2 separate regions of the Homo sapiens genome follow, and region 1 is linked to region 2. The links come from fine-mapping of genetic effects on gene expression. A gene starts in region 2. The other region holds a variant in brackets. All regions are shown on one strand. Distances are between the middles of the regions.

Region 1 (2,909 bases), 76 kb after region 2:
TGGAGTTTCACTCCTGTTGCCCAGCAACCTCTGCCTCCCGGGTTCAAGCCATTCTCCTGCCTCAGCCTCCCGAGTAGCTGGGATTACAGGCATGTGCCACCATGTCCGGCTAATTTTGTATTTTTAGTAGAGACGGGGTTTCTCCATGTTGGTCAGGCTGGTCTTGAACTCCTGACCTCAGGTGATCTGCCTGCCTCGGCCTCCCAAAGTGCTGGCATTACAGGCGTGAGCCACCTTACCCAGCCGAATGTCCTTGTTAATAGGAAATTTACTCTGAAGTATTTAGGAATAAAGGGGCATGATGTCATAAATTTCCTCTCAAATACTTCAGAAAACTGTAATAATTAGATGTGTGTGCATTCATGTGTATGGAGAGAGAGAGAGAGAAGGAAAGAATGATAAAACAAATGCAGCAAAATGTTAACAATTGGTGACATATGGCAGGTTGGGCTGCTATAACAGAATACCACGGACTAGGTGGCTTACACAACAGAAGTCTATTTTTTTTATAGTTCTGGAGGATGGAGGTCCAAGATCAAGGTACAGCATGATCAGGTTCTAATAAGAACTCTCTTCCTGGCTTACAGATGGCTGTCTTCTTACTGTGTTCTCACATGGCAGGGGGGTAGCAAGTTCTCTGGTGCCTCTTCTTCTAAGGGCACTAATTCCATTATGAGACCCAACTCTCATGACCTCATCTAAACCAAATCACCTCCTAAAGGCACCAGGCTAAATACCATCACACTGAGGGTTGGGGCTTTAACATATGAATTGTGGGGAGACACCATTCAGTCCATAGCAGTGAGTGATGGGTATAGTGGAAATTTTGTACTATTTTTGCTACTTCCTGTAAGTTTAGAATTATTTAAAAATAAGAAGGTAAAAGAAAAAAGAAAAAACATTGGCATAAAGTGTTTTACCCAGGTCACGCAGCTGGTGAGTGGTAGGAAATGGTCTTTTCCTATGTTCTTTAGAACCCACTCTCTTAGATGCTGCACGGACACAGATGCTTTGTGACTTCTCATATCCTCTGGCATGGTCCACCTCCTCAATCATACCGCAGCTGAGGACAAACTAGGCCCTCCCCCTTGGCTAGTGCTCTGCAGCTGGATCAAGCAGACGCTCTTCCAGAATGTCTGGCTTCTCCCACTGCTTCCGGATTTGGATGAAATGCTGTGCTGCAGGGCATAGGATCAGATAGGCAAAAGGAAAGAATGATGCAAGCAGGAATGCAAGGTAGTTTCTGCCTGCAGAGCAAACTTTCGCCAATTAGGGCCGTGTGCAGTGGCTCATGCCTGTTATTCCAGCACTTTGGGAGGCCAAGGTGGGCGGATCACCTGAGGTCAGAAGTTCCAGACCAGACTGGCCAACGTGGCTCTACTAAAAATACAAAAATTAGCTGGGCGTAGTGGTGGGCGCCTGTAATCCCAGCTACTCCGGAGGCTGAGGCAGGAGAATTGTTTGAACTCTGGGAGGCAGAGGTTGCAGTGATCCGAGATCGCGCCATTACACTCCAGCCTGGGTGACAAGGTGAGACTCTGTCTCAAATAAAACAAAACAAAACCGCAACAACAAAAAACACACTTTGGCCAACTGGAAGCGGGAGACAGGGTTTCGTCTACCTTCCTCTCTTCCACGGAC[A/T]ACCTCAATGTGAGAGAAGTTCTGTGTGCTGAGCACGCACCCGCACAACAGAGTAAAACATTACTTTATATTGCAATTTTATATTATTATTGCACTTTATATATTACCTTAATATAGTATTATAATATTATAATTATATAACATTAATATATATTAATATATAATATATACATTATATTATTGCACTTTATATTGCACTTTATATATTACTTTATATTGTGCAATATATTACTTTATATTGTACAACAGAGTAAAACATTACTTTATATTGCTCCACATCTTTTCTTGCCCCACTTCCCCTTTTCCCCATCCCAGCTGCTGTGGGTTTGCACTTCTCAAAGGAAGCATTAGCACTTTAATCCCTGCCTTGGGCTCTGTTTTCTAGAGTACTAGGGCTAATTAGAGAAAAAAAAAAAAAAAAAAAAAAAGGGCCGGGCACGGTGGCTCCTGCCTGTAATCCCAGCACTTTGGGAGGCCGAGGGGAGGCGGGCGGATCACGAGGTCAGGAGATCGAGACCATCCTCGCTAACATGGTGAAACACCATCTCTACCAAAAACACAAAAAATTAGCCGGGCGTGGTGGCAGGCGCCTGTAGTCCCAGCTATTCAGGAGGCTGAGGCAGGAGAATGGCGTGAACCTGGGAGGCGGAGCTTGCAGTGAGCTGAGATTGGGCCACTGCACTCCAGCCTGGGTGACAGAGCAAGACTCTGTCTCAAAAAAAAAAAAAAAAAAAAAAAAGGCCGAGCACGGAGGCTCACGCCTGTAATCCCAGCGCTTTGGGAGGCCGAGGTAGATGGATCACCAGGTCAGGAGATCGAGACCATCATGGCCAACATGGTGAAACCCCGTCTCTACTAAAAATATGAAAATTAGCCGGATGTTGTGGTGCGTGCCTGTAGTCCCACATATTCAGGAGGCTGAGGTACGAGAATCAGTTGAACCCAGGAGGCGGAGGTTGCAGTGAGAATTGCACTCCAGCCTGATGACAGAGTGAGACACTCCGTCTCAAAAAAAAAAAAAAAGAAAAGACTATGCTGTACTGCCCCTAATTTGAGCTGAGTCCTAAAGACAGGTAATATTTTGACAGCCAGAAATTTGAGAGAAAGGCAATACAAAAAGAAGGAATGGCTTTATTTATTTTTGAGACAGCATCTCGCTTTGTCATCCAGGCTGGAGTACAGTGGCATGATCATGGCTCATCACAGCCTCACACTCCTGAGCTTAAGCAATCCTCCCACTTCAGCCTCTTGAGTAGCTGGGACTACAA
Region 2 (2,835 bases):
ACGTACTGAACTAATGAATGACTACTTTCCATAACCTTAACTATAATCCTAAAAGTTAAAAGGGAAAGCCGGCAGGCAGTTTTAAAGACAACTCTTGAATAAAAACATAGGAGAAGTAATTTTCCTCTTAGTTGTGAAAGACCGGACAATTTTCCCTGCAACCTTCCCGCCTTTGCTGGTTGCATAGTAAAAATTAGAAGTAGGAAAATTTAGAATACTTCCATCTCCTTTGAGTCACGAACTTGGAAAGGAGAAAGAGACAACTGCGGGGACGCATGTGCTCTAAAGAAAGCAGGAAGTCCGCTTCTTGAGCATGGGCCGTTCACCCATCATCACAAATGGGAACACCGGCCTTAAGTCCATCCCCATTCTCTTCTAACCCTGAAATCAAAGCCAGTCTCAGTAGGAAACGCGATCTTGCTAGCTGAGTTAGAGAAGGAGCACCAGACAGCTCAGGACACCCTCCTCCTTCTACTTGGCCTGCGGCAGGAGGATACTCCCCGGGTCCCAGCCAGTGGAGAAGGCGGACCCGGCAGGCAACAGCGAAAGAGCCTTGGCCGGGAAGGAGCGCGGCCAGTCCACGCGGCCGGAGAACTCACCGAACAAAGCGCACCGCGGAGCGGGAGGGGACACTCGGAAAGAGGGGGAAAGATTCAACCAGCTCTTCACCACTGCCTGGGGCTAGAGACAGGTGGAGCCGCCGTCCTCCTTAGAAGGAGAAGAAAGATAGGTTTTCGAGGGCTAATCTGAAACTCCTGCGCCAAGGCAACCGGAACCGGGACCCCGCCTGGGGAGCGCGCTAAGAAACAGGGGAGGCGAGCGCTGAGGGAAGGGATGGATGGTCGGGGTCACAGGCGGCCTCTGCGGGGATGTCGGGGTCCCGCCTGAGCCGCGCAGAGGATGCCCGCGGCGCGCCGCCGGCCGCCCCGACTCGGGCCTCCCGAGCGCAGCCGCTGGCCCCCTCCCACCCGCGCCCCAGGCCGCCACACAAAGGGGATGGCGAGGCGCGCCGGCCGCCGGGAGGTGGAGGGGCGACGGGCCTGGGACGAGGTGGCCGAGCCGCGACGCCCGCCGCGCCCCCCGCCTTTGTCTGCCTCGCCCCGCGCCCTCCCCCTGCGGAGGAGCCCCACCGCCGCGGCGCCCTCACCCTGCTCGTTACCCGGGTGAGTAGCGGTCTCATCTGCTCGCCGGCCCCATCAGCCTCCATGGCCGGCCGGCCAGCCCGTGACGGCCGCTACGGTACTGCCCCGCGCGGTCTGCCTGCTTCTGCCGCTGCCCCTGCCGCCGCCGCCGAGCCCCCGGCGCGCGAGGACAAACGTGGGTGCGTCCGTGCGCGAGGTGTGCGCGCGTGGGGAGAGCCGGGCGCCGGGCGCGGGAGACGCGGGGCGTGCGTGTGCGCGCTGCGACTGCTGGGCTGGCTTTAGTAGGAGAGCGAGGCCGCGGCGTGGAACCTGAAGCTAGAACTGAGCGAACCGGCGGACCGAGCGGGAAGGAGGAGAGCCGCGTAGGAGGAGGGGTTCGGGGGCGGAGCCGCAAACCGTGACGAGCCCGGCGCCGGGGCCAGGCAAGACACGCCCCCCCGCCCCGCCTCCTCGGGTCACGCCCCCTGCCAGTCTGGCACCGCCAGCCTCCTCAGCGCGCCCGCGGGCCGCGCCGCTAGGCCACCGGGAGATGGGGCGGGAGGGAGGCGGGACGGACATTTGTCCCAGCCAATCGGCGGCTGGCGGACTTCCGCTCGCCTCCCCCGTGCCACCTCCTCAGGACGCACCGCCCCTCTTTGTATAAGCTTAATTGACCGAAGCTGAGCGTCTAACTAGTTTTTCAAGTCGGAAGCTCCCCTGACGTTCTCAATGGGGTGGGGGGTCACCACCTCCCTTGGCTCCTAACTACATTCTTTAGAGGCTGCAGGGAAGGAGGACGCCACCTCTGTCAAGGACGCCCAGGATAACCCTCCGAAGCAACTAACGAGTCTTCACGACTCCTGGAAGTTTCTTTTCTGTCAATCCAGTAGGCACGAACCCCAACTCAGGGACCGTGAAAGATGGGGTACACTTGACCAGGTGTCCTCCTGTGCTTGCTCGCCCACTGAGCACCACGACAGCTGCCACTTTTTTTTTTTTTTTTTTTTTTTTTGAGACAGAGTCTTGCACCAGCCCAGGTTGGAGTGCAATGGCATGATCTCGGCTCACTGCAACCTCCGCTGCCTGGGTTCAAGCTATTCTCCTGCCTCAGCCTCCTGAGTAGCTGGGACTACAGACGCGCGCCACCACGCCCGGCAACTTTTTGTATTTTTAGTAGAGACGGGGTTTCACCATGTTGGTTAGGCTGGTCTCGAACTCCTGAGCTAAGGTGATCCACCAGCCTCAGCCTCCCAAAGTGCTGGGATTACAGGCATGAGCCACCACACCCGGCCAGCTGCCACATTATTGAGTCCACCCTGTAGGCCGTCTCTCAAATATCCCTTCTGTAACGGGATGATTGTAATACCTGCCATGCAGGCTCATTGAAGGATTAAGGGGATTTATATTCATAAAAGTGCCTGGCACATAGCATGCTGATAATTTTCATTATTGTTAACAGGTTTCTCTTGAGTGTTTCATAAAGATGAGAAATTTGGCCGGGCGCGGTGGCTTACGCCTGTAATTACAGCAGTTTGGGAGGCCGAGGCGGGCGGATCACCTGAGATCAGGAGTTCGAGACCAGCCTGACCAACATGACGAAACCCCGTGTCTACTAAAAATACAAAAATTAGCCAGGCATGGTGGCAGGCACCTGTAATCCCAGCTACTCAGGAGGCTGAGGCAGGAGAATCGCTTGAACCCAGGAGGCAGAGGT

What was found. PIP is the estimated chance that this variant, and not a neighbour inherited with it, causes the effect.
Region 1: its variant is fine-mapped to the expression of SLC4A7 in whole blood (INTERVAL, PIP above 0.99).

The regions. Positions count from the first base shown.
Region 1 is chr3:27,558,905-27,561,813 of GRCh38, forward strand. No RefSeq gene overlaps it. Among named protein-coding and RNA genes, the nearest start is that of SLC4A7, 76 kb to the left of the region's middle. The variant A/T (reference allele first, on the strand shown) is at 1,642.
Region 2 is chr3:27,482,920-27,485,754 of GRCh38, forward strand. It overlaps SLC4A7 (solute carrier family 4 member 7), which reads right to left and starts at 1,465. Exons shown (of 26, transcript NM_001321103.2): 1 at 1,148-1,465. The coding sequence starts at 1,207. RefSeq lists enhancers at 204-263, 424-633, 664-723, 739-1,515, 1,994-2,123 and silencers at 894-963, 994-1,353, 1,384-1,863.